Regions from separate parts of the Homo sapiens genome. Here region 2 is linked to region 1. Evidence: fine-mapped expression QTL. Tissue or cell type: whole blood. Region 1 holds a variant in brackets; the other region holds the start of a gene. All regions are shown on one strand. Distances are between the middles of the regions.

Evidence for each region. PIP is the estimated chance that this variant, and not a neighbour inherited with it, causes the effect.
Region 2: COPS3 starts here. The variant in region 1 is fine-mapped to the expression of COPS3 in whole blood (INTERVAL, PIP 0.99).

Annotation. Positions count from the first base shown.
Region 1 is chr17:17,003,355-17,011,457 of GRCh38, forward strand. No RefSeq gene overlaps it. Among named protein-coding and RNA genes, the nearest start is that of LINC02090, 19 kb to the left of the region's middle. RefSeq lists enhancers at 1,380-1,908, 7,734-8,103. The variant T/C (reference allele first, on the strand shown) is at 4,287.
Region 2 is chr17:17,277,333-17,285,435 of GRCh38, forward strand. COPS3 (COP9 signalosome subunit 3) reads right to left here and starts at 3,914. Exons shown (of 12, transcript NM_003653.4): 1 at 3,800-3,914. The coding sequence starts at 3,854. RefSeq lists enhancers at 3,302-3,361, 4,012-4,111 and a silencer at 3,552-3,791.

The DNA.
Region 1 (8,103 bases):
GTTTCACAGAGGAGGATGTGGAGGTCAGAGTGGCTAAGACAACTGCTCAATGCCACTGGGCACCAGAGGGCAGATGGGGCTTGGGGGACCCTGATCCCACACTCACAGGACCCCTGTCCAGTGCGCTCCTGTGGGTAGATCAAGGCAAGGCTGCCTCTAGGACCACCTCCCTCTTGCCCCGCACCAGCCAGGCATCCTCTGGGCAGGGACCATGGCAACACGGCCCCCACCTGTGGCCGGGCCTTCTGGGTCCTCTCCAGGAGGTGTCTAGGCACCACGCTGTGGCATCAGCATCACACACAATGCTGAGATGAAAAGTCTTACGCAGGTGTCTTCGCACACCTGAGCAAACATTTCTACAGGAATAATTTCCCCCAGCGGGATTCTTGGATCAAAGGGAAGCACACATGATTATTCTAGAAGTTGACAGCCATTGTCCAATTGACACCCTCACCCACAGGGCTCTTTCCCCACATCCTTGGCAATACCAGGTCCTTGTTTTTAAATCTGTGCCGACCCGATGGGCAGAGAGTGGCACCTTGTCATGCTGTCTCCTGCCTGTTTGATCCAGGATTTTGTGGACCGTGGGTTTGGCAGCTGCTGGCACTTCTTCTGCACGTTCCCTTTTTGTGTCCTTTTCCAGATTGCTATTTCTTTGGGGCTTTTTTCTTAGTGATTTGTAGGGTGCTTTAAAATAAAATCTTCTGTCTGCCATGGTCTGTAGGTGACAAATATTTCTTCTCAGCTAATTGTTTTATTTTCAGCCATGTTGGTGGGGACTTTGTGATTGTTTTGTTTTTTGTGATTGGTCTTTGGAAGTTGCTCATGTTTGTGTAATCGGATTTGTCATTCTTTTCCTTTGTCATTTCAGAGTTTGTGTCAGGAATTCTTCCCTCTTCAACCCATTCCTCCACCTCCCTCCGCAGACTGGCCGGTGTTCTCTCTAGATCTGCCTCTCCCTCCATGCCATGCTCTCGGGCCCTTCGTGGTGAAGCCAGGTGGCCGTCCTCCTGCCCCTGCCCCTGAAGGAGAAAGCTCCAAGACCTGCTGTATTCATGTCCCCTTCCTGGAGGCCCACCTTCACGTGCCCACCTACCTCCTCAGCATGCCTGAGCCCCTATCGCTTTCCTCTCGCAGCAGCCTCAGGTGCAGAGCCCGGGGACTCTGGTCTGACACCGATGGCTTCTTAACTACAATCAGCACACCTGCTGCTCACCACCCTTGGCCAGGCCAAGCCACAGCCAGGCCCAGCCCTGGATTCGAGATTGTTATTTCTGCAAAATGGATCATCCAGGCATCTCTGGCTTGTCTCTGGCCCCCCCGCACCCCTCCACCACGCCCCTGGGCTGCTGCTGCTGATGTCTCCTTCCTGCCTACATCGGACCCAGTTCCCCCATGTTCATCCCTGGGGCTGGGCCACCTGCTGCTCCCCCTGGCTCATCCACTGCCCGTTACCAAGCCGCACACAGCTCATCGACCTACAGCCACACTTGTCACACCTCCTTGCAGACCACGAGTCCAGAGAAGCACGTGATGCAACCTCCCACACCTGACTCTTTTACAAACCAACAGGCCACTGGGAGGCTGCTCTCCTTGTCTCTGGGGTGGCAGCAGGGGAAGCAGGAGAATGAACAGCCTCCAAAACTTCTCCTCAGACGGAGCCGCCATGGAGGAACAAAGGGTCACCATCAACAAAGTCCATTTAGCCCAATCAGCCTCCTGCCCAGCAAACCAGGGAGGCATGCTCTGCCCTCAGCCCTCAGGTCCCAGGGGCCCGGCCCTGGCAGCCTCTTTGTTATTCCTGGCTCCCGGGACCAGGACTCTCAGGGTGCCCATGCCAGGGAGGCCTGCATGGCCGGGAGCAGGTATTTCCTTCTGTGCCCTCTGCGGGCTCAGGAAGACCCCACCCTGCAGGTGGCAGGAAGGGGCTGTGTTGAGCAAGGGGCCCAGCAGCTGGAGTGGGCCTGGGTCTAACTCTCCACTCCTGTTTGCATTGGCAAAGCACCGCAGCTGACACGGGCTGCGGGAGCACCACGCTCAGAGGAGCCGGCGACGGCTGTTTCCCAGCTGCTGTGCAATTTGCTGAGTTCAACACACATGTATTGACTGCCCACTGTGTTTTCTGTGCTCACTTGGAAATTCTGTTGAGCGCCTACTATGTGCTAGGCACTTGTCTGTGTGCTGGGGATATGGCCTGGGGCAAAGGTGTCAGTTCAGCTCCCCTGGGAAGTAGACAACAGGTTGGAGTTAGAGATACAAGAACTGTGTTAGGAGAAGGAGCTGTAAAGGAGAAAGGGGCGAGGGGCAGAGCAGTCAGGGAGAGCATGGAGCGCACCAAGCACAATGCTTGTGAAGGAGAGGGGCCACTGGAGAGCTGGGCGGGGGAGCCTCACCCGGCCCCAGGGGGTCTCTGGAGCAAAGATGGCCAGTACTGGGGTCCCAGGTTGGGCAGGATGATTTGAATGTGGCGGAAGATCCCCAAGTAGCTGGAGGCTGTCAGCTGACTGCACTTCTTGCAGAGGCTTCTCTCTTGAAGGCCGACCTGAGAAGAGCACCTCCATGGTGGCCACGGGAGATTAAATGCAGCTGCCATCCTGTGGAGGGGATGGACAACACACCAAGCAGCAACTGCACCCCCTTCTAGAACAGAGGCCCCAAATGACAGTGCTTCAAGAGAGGTGGGAGCTGGCTGTGCACAGTGGCTCATGCCTGTAATCCCAGAGCTATGGGAGGCCGAGGTGGGAGGCTCACTTGAGGCCAGGAGTTCAAGGCCTGCCTGGGCAACATAACGAGACCCCATTTCTACAAAAAATACCAAAAAAAAATTCAGCTGGACATGGTGGCATGTGGCTATAGTCCCAGCTACTCAGAAAGCTGAGGTGGGAGGATTGCTAGAGCCCAGGCTAGGCTGCAGTGAGCTATGATGGTGCCACTGTACTGCAGCCTGGGTGACAGAGTGAGACCCAGTCTCTTAAAAAAAAAAAAAAAATTATTAAGGGGAGGGCAAGCCCTTTTCCATACTTTCTTAACCCTGCTGTTTAGGATGTGGACATGATGGTGCACTGTCTTGAGCTACATGGACAAGAGAAACACCCTAGGGATGGGAGAGAGAAGGGTGGATCCCTGAATAACTGCATGGAGCAGAGTTGCCACCGCAGCCCTGAACTGCCCTGCCACCCCTAGACAGTGTGCTGGAGAAATGAACCTCTGTCTTGTTAAAGCCACTGTTGTTAGACGTAGCTAAACCTAGATCCTAAATACAAACATAGCATGTTCTTTTTTTTTTTTTTTTTTTTTCCTGAGGCGGAGTCTCACTCTTCGCCCAGGCTGGACTGCAATGGCACAATCTCGGCTCACTGCAACCTCCACCTCCCAGGTTGAAGCAATTCTCCCACCTCAGCCTCCCAAGTAGCTGGTATTACAGGCGTGCGCCACCACGCCTGGCTAATTTTTGTATTTTTAGTAGAGACGGGGTTTCACCACATTGGCCAGACTGCTCTCGAACTCCTGACCTCAAGTAATCCGCCTGTCTCAGCCTCCCAAAGTGCTGGGGTTCCAGCCACTGCACCCCTCCACACATAGCGTGTTCTTTTTGTCCACATAAAACTTACCATCTTGACCATCGTGAAATGCACAGTTCAGTGGCACTAAGCACAGTCTCATTGTTGTGCAACCATTACCATCGTCCATCTCAAGAACTTTTTCGCCGGGTGCGGTGGCTCACGCCTGTAATCTCAATGCTTTGGGAGGCCAAGGTGGGCAGATCACAAGGTCAGGAGATCGAGGCCATCCTGGCTAACACGGTGAAACCCCGTCTCTGCTAAAAATACAAAAAATTAGGCGGGCGTGGTGGCGGGCGCCTGTAGTCCCAGCTACTCAGACGCTGAGGCAGGAGAATGGCGTGAACCCAGGAGGCGGAGCTTGCAGTGAGCCGAGATAGGGCCACTGCACTCTAGCCTGGGCGACAGAGCGAGACTCCGTCTCTTAAAAAAAAAAAAAAAGAACTTTTTCATCTTCCTCAAATTGAAACTGTCTCCAATGAACAGTAAACAGTAACTCCCCATTCCCCTTCCCTTAGCTCGTATAAGTGGAATCATATAGAGTTTGTCTTTTCACGGAATATTACGCCCTCACGTTCTTCCATATTGTAGCATGTGCCAGAATTTCCTTCCTTTGTAAGACTGAATAATATTTCATTGTACGCACAGACCACATTTTTGTTTATCGATGGTCATTTGGGTGGCTTCCACCTTTTCGTTGTTGTAAAGAATGCTGCTATAGTGAGC[T/C]GAGATCACGCCACTGCGCTCCAGCCTAGGCAACAGAGTGAGACTCCGTCTCAAAAAAAAAAGAATGCTGCTATAAACATGGGTGAACAAACATCTGTTGGAGACCCTGATCTCAATTATTTTTGGGGTATTTTTTGGTATATACCCAAAAGCGGAATTACTAGATTATATGGTAATTCTGCACAGTGACTTTTCCACTAGTGTTTAACATGGTGTCTTGACAGAATAGCTGTAAGATTACACTGAAAAAGCAGCAGGGGAAGTGCTGTGAAGGCGGCCCATGAGCTTGTAGGAAAGGCGGTCAGCAGCACACCTCCACTGTAATGGGTTTGTTTACCCGCTAGCCTACCAACAGCTGCAGGCCCCTTTCCTGGCCCTGGCCCTGCCCCTGCCCCACATTGCTCCCCACATTAGACCCAGCTGTGCTGCACCTCTGCCCTTCTGCCCCGGCTCCTGCTTGTTACAGGGAAGGGCTGGAGGGCTCTTTGTCCAGGTTTGTCATCCAATATGAGCACTCAGTGCACACGGATGGCTTTACCTGGCACTCAGCCAGTGAACTCAGCATCTGCTCCGGCCCTTTAGCACTGAGCTAGGCTATCTACCTTCATAGGCCAATCACAGGTTGTCACAGGTAAATGACCACATGTGGTTTGTGCCTCACTTTCTGACTTTGGAACATAATCCCCTGGTAGGGGTGGGGGAGGGCCATTTTTCTGGAGCTTCCTCCTATTTTCAAGCTTTATCATGCAGAACAAAACCTTCTAAGCAGAAGCCTCAATGTCCTCTTTCTGTGGGTTGCATGTGTCCCCCAAAAGGCGTGTATTCAACACTTAATCCCCGGTGCAATGGTATTGGGAGCTGGGGCCTAATAGGAGGTGTTTAGGTTATAAGGTGCCCACCGTCACGCATGGGTTAATGCTGATTATAAAAGGCCTTGAGACTGTGAGTTTGGTCTCTTACCCTCCTGATTTCCACCATGGGATGAGGCAGCAAGAAGGCCCTCACCAAATGCTGGGCTCAGGCCAGCACCATGCCCTTGGGCTTCCCAGCCTCCAGAATTATGAGCCACATAAATGTCTGATTATTATAAATGACCCAGTCTCAGGTATTCTGTTATAGCAGCACGAAATGGACTCAGACATCTGTCTGCCAGCCCTGCCCTCCTGAGGGCTGGAATGCCGTTCGCTGCACTTCCCAGCCTCTCTACTTTGCCTCACACTGACTTCCCTCCCTGGAACCAGCAGTTCCTGCTTATTTGGGCGTTTTCAGATCTTACTGATCTTTCAAGGGCACCTCCTCTGTGAACTTACCTGGGTCCTTCCCAGCTTGGAGGGATCTCACAGCACATTCTGTAGCCAGTACCATGTTCTACCGTCTCTTCTAAAGCACAGTTCCTGGGCCAGAGCCCCAGCATGGCCTGCAGGCTGCAGGAAATGTGAATTCCAAGGCCCCCCTAGACCTCCTGATTCAGAAACTGGTGGTGGAGCCAACAATCTGTGTCTTATTGGCATAGATAGTTCTAGGTCTACCAGGCTGCCAGGAGGCCTCAATGGCTTGACAATCATGGGGCACGAAGCAACGCCCGCGAGTCAGCAGCAGGGGGTCCCAGCTGGTCTCCCCAAGGGTTCTTCTTCCCTCCTCTTCTTCTTAAAGTGTGGGAAAATTTACAGCAAAGTACACAAATGTTGGTGTGCAAATCAATGCCTTTTAACAAATGTGTCCACCCCGTCATCACACCCCAGATGAAGACATGGAACATTTCCAGGACCCCAGAAAGCTCCCTGGTGCCTCCTTCCCGTCAATAACCCCATCCTCCACCAGCCCCACCAAGAAACCACCACCAGGACTTCTGTCTCCATAGATGACTTTTGCCTGTTTTTTTTTTGTTTTTTTTTTTTGAGACGGAGTCTCGCTCTGTCACACAGGCTGGAGTGCCGTGGCACCATCTCGGCTCACTGCAAGCTCTGCCTCCCGGGTTCACGCCATTCTCCTGCCTCAGCGCGTGAGTAGCTGGGACTACAGGCGCCCGCCGCCCCGCCCGGCTAATTTTTTGTATATTTAGTAGAGAAGGGGTTTCACTGTGTTAGCCAGGATGGTCTCGATCTCCTGACCTCGTAATCCACCTGCCTCAGCCTCCCAAAGTGTTGGGACTACAGGCGTGAGCCACCGCACCCAACCTTGCCTGTTTTTGACCTCCATACTGTGCATGCTCTTTTGCGTCTGGATTCTTTTGTCTGACTTTATCTGCGAGATTCATCTAACTTGTTGCATGGAAGAGTCATTTGGTCTTTTCCTCTGCTATGCAATGCAGGAGAACATTTGTTTGTTTTTAGTTTATAGAATGCAGTAAGTTTTCTTTTGGTGGACATCAGCACTTGTTTCTCTTGGGTGTCTGACCCTTTCCCATGCTTTCCAACCCTAGCTTCTAAGCTCTCTGAGGGTACAGAGTTTGCCTCTGTCTATCCTGGCCTGACACGCAGTCTCCTCCTGTCAGCATTTACTCAGTCCAAATTGCAACAGGGGCAGGTCCCTGCCAGCTGAGGGAGCTATTCTTCCAGCTCAGCAGGGGGTTGGCCAGTCTTGTCCTCTGGGACAAAGCCCAGCCAGAGTTCTGGGCACTGTGGTTCAGAAGGCCTGAGACACGTGGTTTTACCAGGGCTGGGTACCAAGAACCATGCTTGAGGCTGACGGCATTTCATTGGCAGCGTCTGTGGGGGGCTTGGGGACTCAGCCGTGGGAAGCCTGTTCTGCACACAGCCATGGCGCAAGAAATGCTTTTTCCTGCGACGGTTCAGTGAGAACCATGATGGCAGTGGTGCAGCATCCTCCCAGCTTGGTTTTTAAACATGGGAAGGGCTTCTAAAAAGTCACACAGCTGGTTAATGTTTGAACCAGGGTGGCACAGGTTTGTGCGAAGCAGTGAGTGGAGCTGTCTGAATGCCAGGAGGAGGGTCACCCTGGAGGCGGGTGACACAGGGGTCAGTGCAGGTCAGAGGCAGAGGCTGGGCCCAGATGCCATGCGAGCTCCAGGCCACTTTCCCAGAGAAGTGAGCGGCGGCCAGGCTGCCGGAGGCTGTGTGGCCTCTTCAGGCCCTCACTGGTCCTGATTTTGAGGGGTGACTCATGCCGGCTTGGACATCCACTTCTGGCTCAAGTTGCTCTGGGTTCCTCCACACAGACCAGAGGGATTCCTGCGTCACAGGAATCCAGGAAGGGGTGGGGGGAGTTGCAGGTTGAGAAGACAGAGGTGAGTGGCCCCCGGGCCCCTCCCCTGTTGAGTCACGGGAAGGGAATGGAAATAGTGTGTGCTGAAGCTGAGTCAGGGCCCAGCCTCACCTTCTCGGGACCTCATATGGGCTCTGAGGCGAGAGGCCCACCTGTCCCCCCCTCCTTGCTGCCTCCTCTCCCAAGCATGAGGAGGGCGAGCAGGAAGGATTTAGGTTAGCTCTCAAGAAGGACTTCCTGAATCGCGCCAGGCGACACTGAGAGGCATCTCTCAAAGGAAGTTGTGAAATCTTCCTTGGGACCAATTTGAGGTTTGGTCTGGGTCCAACCAGGACTATCTTTATGGCTCTAGAATATTTTCAAGTGTTAGACATTCCTTCCTCGACATGACTCAGGGAGCATCCGATGTGTGCCAGGCCTGGTGGCAGGAGCAGGGCCAGCTGAGTGTGGGACATGCCCCACTCTGGGGGTCTTCTCTAGGTCAGCATTACAGCAGCCTTGGAGAAGACGGCTCCCACCCCTTCCGTCCTCCCCTCTCCTGGCTCCCTTGGGCAGCCTGCTCTGCCAGCCACACCACACTCCACTTTCGGAT
Region 2 (8,103 bases), 270 kb after region 1:
ACCTGCTTAGCAGTTCATCAAGCAGCTACTTGTTGAATTAATCTCCTAATTGATCTATTTTTCCCCTATACTGCAATACTATGTTTGTTTTGTTTTGTTTTTTGAGACAGGGTCTCATTCTGTCGCTCAGGCTGCAGTGCAGTGGTGTGATCACAGCTCAACGCAGCCTCCATCTCCTGGGCTCAAGCAATCCTCCCACCTTAGCCTCCCGAGTAGCTGGAACTACAGGTGTACGTCACCATGCCCATCTTATTTTTTAAGTTTTTTGCAGAGACAGGGGTCTCACTATGTTGCCCAGTCTGGTCTCTAACTCCTGGGCTCAAGCAATCCTCCCACCTTGGCCTCCCAAAGTGCTGGGATTAGAGGCATGAGCCACCACACTCAGCCTGCAATGCTACATTTTAACAACTAAGGTACAGAATCTATTAATAATTAGGCCTCAGCCGGGTGCTGTGGCTCACACCTGTAATCCCAGCACTTTGGGAGGATAAGGTGGGCAGATCTCTCGAGGTCAGGAGTTCAAGACCAGGCTGGCTCACACCTGTAATCCCAGCACTTTGGGAGGATAAGGTGGGCAGATATCTCGAGGTCAGGAGTTCAAGACCAGGCTGGCCAACATGGTGAAACCCTGTCTCCACTAAAAATACAAAAATTAGCTGGGTGTGGTGGCACACACCTGTAATCCCAGCTACTCGGGAGGCTGAGGTGGGAGAATCCTTTAACCTGGGACAATCCTTGAACCCGGGAGATGGAGGCTGCAGTGAGCTGAGATTGCGCCACTGTACTCCAGCCTGGGCAACAGAGCAAGACTCCGTTTCGGGGGAAAAAAAAAATTAGGCCTGAATTGGTACCTTTAAGTAGACCCATCAATTTTGACAATTACTGTCATGACAGATACCATGGTCACACTCTGTCTTTCTGGTAACAGTGAGGATATATTTAAGTCCATGGGCATTAACCTCAAGTTTCCAACTTCTCTATTTCTACAGAGCAACTGCATAATCTTTTCCTTACTAAAAGAATACAACATAGTATAATGCTTAAAATACAAGTGACTATAGCTAGGTACTTTTGATAATTTAACACTTTTCAATTTGATACATTTTACTGAAAGCAAAGGAAATGTATCATTATTATACATGCATTACAAAACAAGAATAAAACAGCTGTGATCTTATTAGGTGTCACCTCTTGAGATCACACAGATTTAACTGGGAAATACCAACTCATCATCATTGTATTACAGATCTCACTGGTAGGTATGAAGTAACTTCTAGTTGAATAATTTGCCTTTGTAAACCATTACTCTAAATATATTAACAATAATTTGTAACACCCAGAAATAAGCATTGCAATCCATTAGTTCTCTACTAGTTAACAATCAGTGCCCAGTTGAGACTGAAATAAAAGCTGGGTCACTATGAAATCACCAGATAATTAATTAGTGCAGGGCCAAGGGCAGAGTAAAAAAAAAAAGTTTAAGTGTCACAGAGTGCATTTGAAATCAGTGTAACCAGAGATGTGGCCAATAAAATTCTTTTTTTTCTTTTTTTTTTTTTTGAGACGGAGTCTTGCTCTGTCACCCAGACTGGAGGGCAGTGGCGCGATCTTGGCTCACTGCAAGCTCCACCTCCCAGGTTCATGCCATTCTCCTGCCTCAGCCTCCCGAGTAGCTGAGATTACAGGCGCCCGCCACCATGCCTGGCTAATTTTGCATTTTTAGTAGAGACAGGGTTTCACCATGTTGGCCAGGGTGGTCTTGAACTCCTGACCTCAGATGATCCGCCCGCCTCGGCCTCCCAAAGTGCTGGAATTACAGGAGTGAGCCACTGCGCCTGGCCTGAAACTCAAAGATTTCCTATCCAGTGAGTGTGAGGCACAGTAGCCGACAGCAATGAAAGTTACCATATTTATCTCTGTCTAGCAGACTGTTCCTATAGCATCCTATAACCTGAAGACCACAACAGCCCTAGTTCTGTTTTGTAATTAAGAAAATTGGCCCAGGGAAATTAAGTGGTTCACCCAAGAAGTGACCGCGACAGGATTTCAACCTGAAGCTTCTAACTACACTACACCCCAGGAAGGAGAACACTAAGTATTTGTCGAATAAATTAACAAACCAGTGGTTCCTTTATTCATAGAAAAGGCAAGCCTGTGCCTTCCCTGTGAACCTCATTTCTATTAATAAAAAGGAAAAAGAGGAAGAATTCTTATTAAGTGCAGCTCCATATCAGACCATTTGTCTTACACCAGTGAGGTAAAAGCACCCCTCCATTTTTACAATGGAGATGCAAAAGACTCAGAGATTAAAGGTTATTTGTCCAAGGTCAAGCAGCTCCTAGAACTTTGCAATTAATGACGGTAACAATAATTTGCAGCTATATTTATTGCACCCCTTATGACAGGCACTGTTCCAACTGCTTTTACATGGTTTCTCTCATTGAATCTTCACAACTCTACATAAACTAGGGACTTATTTTGCAGACGAAGAAACTGAAGCACGGGATAGTTAAAAGGGCCTTCACAGCCAGCATCTAATCATTCGAATTTCAGGTCCAGAATTCGGTACATTCATACGCAATGAATGAACCAAACAACCTGGAAAGTGCGAGTAAAATCATCACAATTCTACCCCTAGAAATGGAGTCCTGGCCGGGCGCAGTGGCTCACGCCTGTAATCCTAGCACTTTGGGAGGCCGAGGTGGGCGGATCACTTCAGGTGAGGAGTTCGAAACCAGCTTGGCCAACATGGTAAAAACCCCATCTCTATTAAAAATACGAAAAAATTAGCCGCGTGGGCTGGCCGCGGTGGCTCATGCCTGTAATCCCAGCACTTTGGGAGGCCGAGGCCAGTGGATCACCTGAGATCAAGGTTCGAGACCAGCCAGGCCAACATGGTGAAACCCTGTCTCTACTAAAAATACAAAAATTAGCCGGGCAGGCGCCTGTAATCCCAGCTACTCGGGAGGCTGAGACAGGAGAATCGCTTGAACCTCGAAGGCGAAGGTTGAGGTGAGCCGAGACCGCGCCACTGCACTCCAGCCTGGGAGACAGTGAGACTCCGTCTCAAAAAAAAAAAAAGCCGTGTGAGCTGGCGGGCGCCTGTAATCTCAGCTACTCGGGAGGCTGAGACAGGAGAATCGCTTGAAGCCGGGAGGCTGAGGTTGCAGTGAGCCGAGATCGCGCCACTGCACTCCAGCCTCGGCTAAAAAAAAACAAAGAAGAAGAAATGGAGTCCTACGAGCGAGAGCTTCCGCAGCATTCTGTAGGACCAAAATAGGCGCACAGGTTCCCGAGCGTGCGCCGCCTGGCAGCGGAGGAGCTGGCAGAGGCGAGCCATAGAGCCAAGACACCCAGAACGGACTCGCCTCCCGCCCGCTCCCGGCGGCCTAGTCAGCAAGCTGCGGATCGGCGGCAAAGATGACATGGCGGTGCGCCAATCACCGAAGGCAAGAGAGACAGAAGGAACCAATAGTCGCCCGAGATGGCTCCTGGCGGAAGTCACGCCCCCAAACTGTCAAGCAAAGCGCCCGGTGGAAGGGGCCCAGGCCGGGGGGAGGGGGCTCCCGGCGGCCCGAGGGAGGGGAGGCCGGCCGGCGAGGACAGCGGAGCGCGAGGGGGCTGCCTACACTCGGCCGCGCTCGATCCTGCCCTGATCTAAACGCCGCAACCCCAAGCCCGGCCCCGGAGAAGAGTCTCAGGACTAAAAGGGCTGTTCCAGCCGTCCGTGCTGGCGCCTGGGGATCCAGGCCAGTTCCCGGTACCCGCCCATGCCCAGCCCGGCGGCCTAGGGCGTTACCTTGAGCTGAGAGCTGTCGGACACTGTTCACGAACTGCTCCAGGGCAGACGCCATGTTTTCCCCCGGGCGGCCCGAGCGGCGAAGGCAGCACGCGCGGGAAAAGGCTGCCGCTCTGGGAGGAGGGGCCGCGGCGATCCACCTGAGGTCCTCGCGAGCGGCGACGTCACTTCCGCTGGTTCAAGCACCGCGAGACTATACCTAGCTGCCCACCCGTTACTGTTTCCATGGAAACAGCCTGAATTCGCCGTAGCCGGAAATTAGTGTTCCATAGTCCCCTGCATCTTTATTCACTGCACTTCTGAAATCCCTCCGCAGGTTAAATGGGGATAGTGGGCAAAAGAAGGAAGGAAACTCATAATTAAGCAAGTATTTTCTGGTTCTGGATTTTGCTAGAGAGGCCCTGCGGTTTTCCACCTGGACAGATACTTCAATGAAGCACAACTTCGTTGCCACGTCTCCCGTGAGGTTTTCCCCGTGATATTAGACTCTGGAGCCAAGCAGCCTGGGTTCAACTGCCTTTTCTACCACTTAGTAGCTGTGTGACGTTGAGCGGGTCACTTGACTGTCGTGTGCATTGTTTTCCCCATCTGTAAAATCTTAGTGTCCTTAACCACGTAAAACACTTAGGACAGTGCATAGGACGTAGGGAGAACTATAGTTATTCATTCAAGGTGTACGTTGAATGAATCGATCCCTTCCCTGCAAAAAATAAATAAATAAGTAACACCACACACAGAAAGTGAATTGATTTTTCCCATCTGGGATTGATGTCTCCCTCCTCCGCTTGTCGCCTAAAGCACTTTGTTCTTCTCATGTTGCACTTCTACTCTGTTACAGAAATGTGTCTCTATAGTCCATGTGATATCTGTAAACCAAAAATAAAAGTCTAAGCCCCCCAACTGACTGGTGGACCCTATCTGAAGCCAAGGACATTCCAATTTATCCTGAAAAACTAGTTCAGGCCATGATGGGAAGTGGTAGTCAGACATGCCTCACAAACATCAACACAGAGACCTTAAGACTGGTAGACTCAAGACTGATAAGAAATATTTACAATCTATTCTGTCTGAATAGCAGGCTACCTGGAAGCCTCATCTGCATGATAAAACCTTGGTCTCCACAACCCCTTATAATCATAACCCAGATATTTCTTTCTATTTACTTCCAGGTCTTTAGATAATAACTCTTTCAACCAATTACCAATCAAAAAATCTTTAAGTCTACCTATAAGGTAGAAGCCCCCCACTGCCCCGAGTTAGCCCGTCTTTCCGATCCTAACCAACGTACATCTTACATGTATTGATCGATGACTCATGTCTCCCTAAAATGTATAAAACCAAACTGTACCCGCACCTTGGGCACATGTCCTGAGGAGCTCCTGAGGCCGTGTTATCATCGCATCCTTCACCTTGGCAATATAAACTTTCTCGATTGAGACTGGTCTCAGATACTTTTGGTTTACGGATCCATTGCTTCTAACTGGCATGGAGTTCCTTAAGGTCAAGCATTTCTCTTACTAACCTTGGTTCCCCTTTAGGGCCCAGCATAGGATTTGCTGCATAGTAGGGACTGAGAAAATAAACATGCATTTTAAAATTTTATCCAACATATGTTTACTGACACTTACAATGTGTTGTACCAGGCACTAGAAATACAGTGGTAGTAAAAACAGTCTTGGGGCCTGGTGCAGTCTCTCACGCTTGTAATCCAGCACTTTGGGAGACTGAAGCAAGTGGATCACTTGAGGTCAGGGGTTGGACACCAGCCTGGCCAACATGGTGAAAAGCCATCTCTACTAAAAATACTACAAAAATTAGCTGGGCTTGGTGATGGGTACCTGTAGTCCCAACTACTCGGGAGGCTGAGATGGGAAAACCTCTTGAACCCGGGAAGTGGAGGTTGCAGTGAGCCGAGATGGCACCACTGCACTCCAGCATGGGCGACAGAGCAAGAATCTGACTCAAACAAAACAAAACAAAACAAAACAGTTTCGGTCCTTCTCTCCTGCAGACAACACATGAAGACCCTAGATAAAAGGAGTTAGTGGTCTGAAGGAATGGAACATGGTTCTATAAAATCATGTCACAGAGGAGATTGACCTGGCTTGGGAGAAACAGGGAAGGCTTTCTTGAGGAAATGGCATAAACTGAGCAACGAAGAAAGAGGAAGAGTTAATAAGATAAGGGGGAAGGAATATTTCTGAGTGAGAGGACAGTATGGTGCTAAGACCCTGCAAGTGAAAGGAGCATGCTAGTTGAGAATGAAGAACTGAAAGAATGTCCTTGTGGTTGGAGGGGAGTAGTTTGTAAGGTGGACAGGGGCCAGGTCATGTAAGCTGTGTTAAAGGTACTGGACTTTTTCCTGAGAAGATTGGGAGGACTGGAGAGTTTTATGCAAGCGGTGGCAGGATCAAATTTGCGTTTTAGGACCGGGCGTGGTGGCTCACGCCTGTAATCCCAGCACTTTGAGAGGCTGAGGTGGGTGGATCACGAGGTCAGGAGTTCAAGAGCAGCCTGGCCAGAAAGATGAAATCCTGTCTCTAGTAAAAATACAAAAAATAGCCGGGTGTGGTGGCGTGTGCTTGTAATCCCAGCTACTCAGGAGCTGAGGCAGGAGAATCGCTTGAACCAGGGAGGTGGAGGTTGCAGTGAGCTGAGATCAGGCCACTGCACTCCAGACTGGACAATAAAAAGAGACTCAACTTCAAAAAACAAAACAACAACAACAAAAATTGCATTTTAAAAAGATTTGTCTGGCTTCACATGGATAACTTGGGAGACAGGAAGCTATTGCAATAGTCAACATAAAATAGAATAGTAATAATTATACTTTAAATAATTATACCTTGAATGCTAATAGTTTTACTCTTACCAGGAGTTCGAGACCAGCCTAGACAACACAGCGTGACTTTGTCTCTACAAAAAAAATTTTAAAAACTAGCTGGTTGTGGTGGTGCATGCCTATTGTCTCAGCTACTCTGGAGGCAGAGGTGGGAGGACCACTTAAGCCCAGGAATTTAAGGCTGCAATGAGCTATGATCTCGCCACTGCACCCCAGCCTGGGTGACAGAGTAAGACCCTGTTTCTTTCAAATAAATAGTAATAATAATAGTTCTTTCGAAAGTGTAGATAAATTCACCAGGATAAATTGGTGAACTTGAGACATGTTTAGATGAATGACTGTAGCACTTGTACTCTAAGATGGAAATGCTCCTGAATGTTCTATGGAAGCAATTGGTCCTTAATCTTTGATCATTTGCAACACACAAGACAGACATTTTGACTTATGGGACACATTTCCATGGATATACATGGATTTTGGTGAAAGCCAAAAATGTTGAAGATAAGTAAAGCACTACAATAATTCAAAGTAGCCACAGCTACTAATAATACTTTGATTGTTTATTTATTATTGCCTATTTAGGTTGTGGCAGCTGCTCTCAAACTGTGACTCCACCAATCAGCAGCGTCAGCGTCATTTGGGATCTTCTTGGAAATGCACATTCTTGGACCCCACTGTAGACTTCCTATATCAAGAGCTCTGAAACTGGGCACGGACCCTCACGCCTATATAAAAATTAGCCAGGCGGTAGTGGTGCACACCTGTAATCCCAGCTACTTGGGAGTCTGAGGCAGGAGAATCGCTTGAGCCTGGGAGGTGGGGGTTGTGGTGAGCTGAAATCATGCCACTGCGCTCCAGTCTCGGTGAGAGAGTGAGACCCTGTCTCGAAAAAAAAAAAACGGTGATTTCCAGAAATCTGAGCTTAACAAGCCTGCAGGTAATTCTGATGGTGCTAAATTCTGAGAGCATCTGGACCGTGGCCTCCAGATGAGCCAGCATGCAAATAACATTTCAAAACAGCTAAAAGCTAAATTCAAAACAGCTAAATTCCACCCTTCTCTTTCCTCTCAAAAACAAATGACTGAAAGAGACGTGATTATAGGGATAAACCTGAATATATTCTAACTTGTTTTTTTTTTTTTTTTTTTTTTTTTTGAGACGGAGTCTCACTCTTTCGCCCAGGCTGGACTGCAGTGGCGCTATCTTGGCTCACTGCAAGCTCTGCCTCCCGGGTTCACGCCATCCTGCTGCCTCAGCCTCCCAAGTAGCTGGGACTACAGGCGCCTGCCACCACACTCGACTAATTTTTTGTATTTTTATTAGAGACGGGGTTTCACCGTGTTAGCCAGGATGGTCTCGATCTCCTGACCTCATGATCTGCCTGCCTCGGCCTCCCAAAGTGCTGGGATTACAGGCGTGAGCCACCGTGCCCGGCCTTGTTTTGTTTTTTTATACAGAGTCT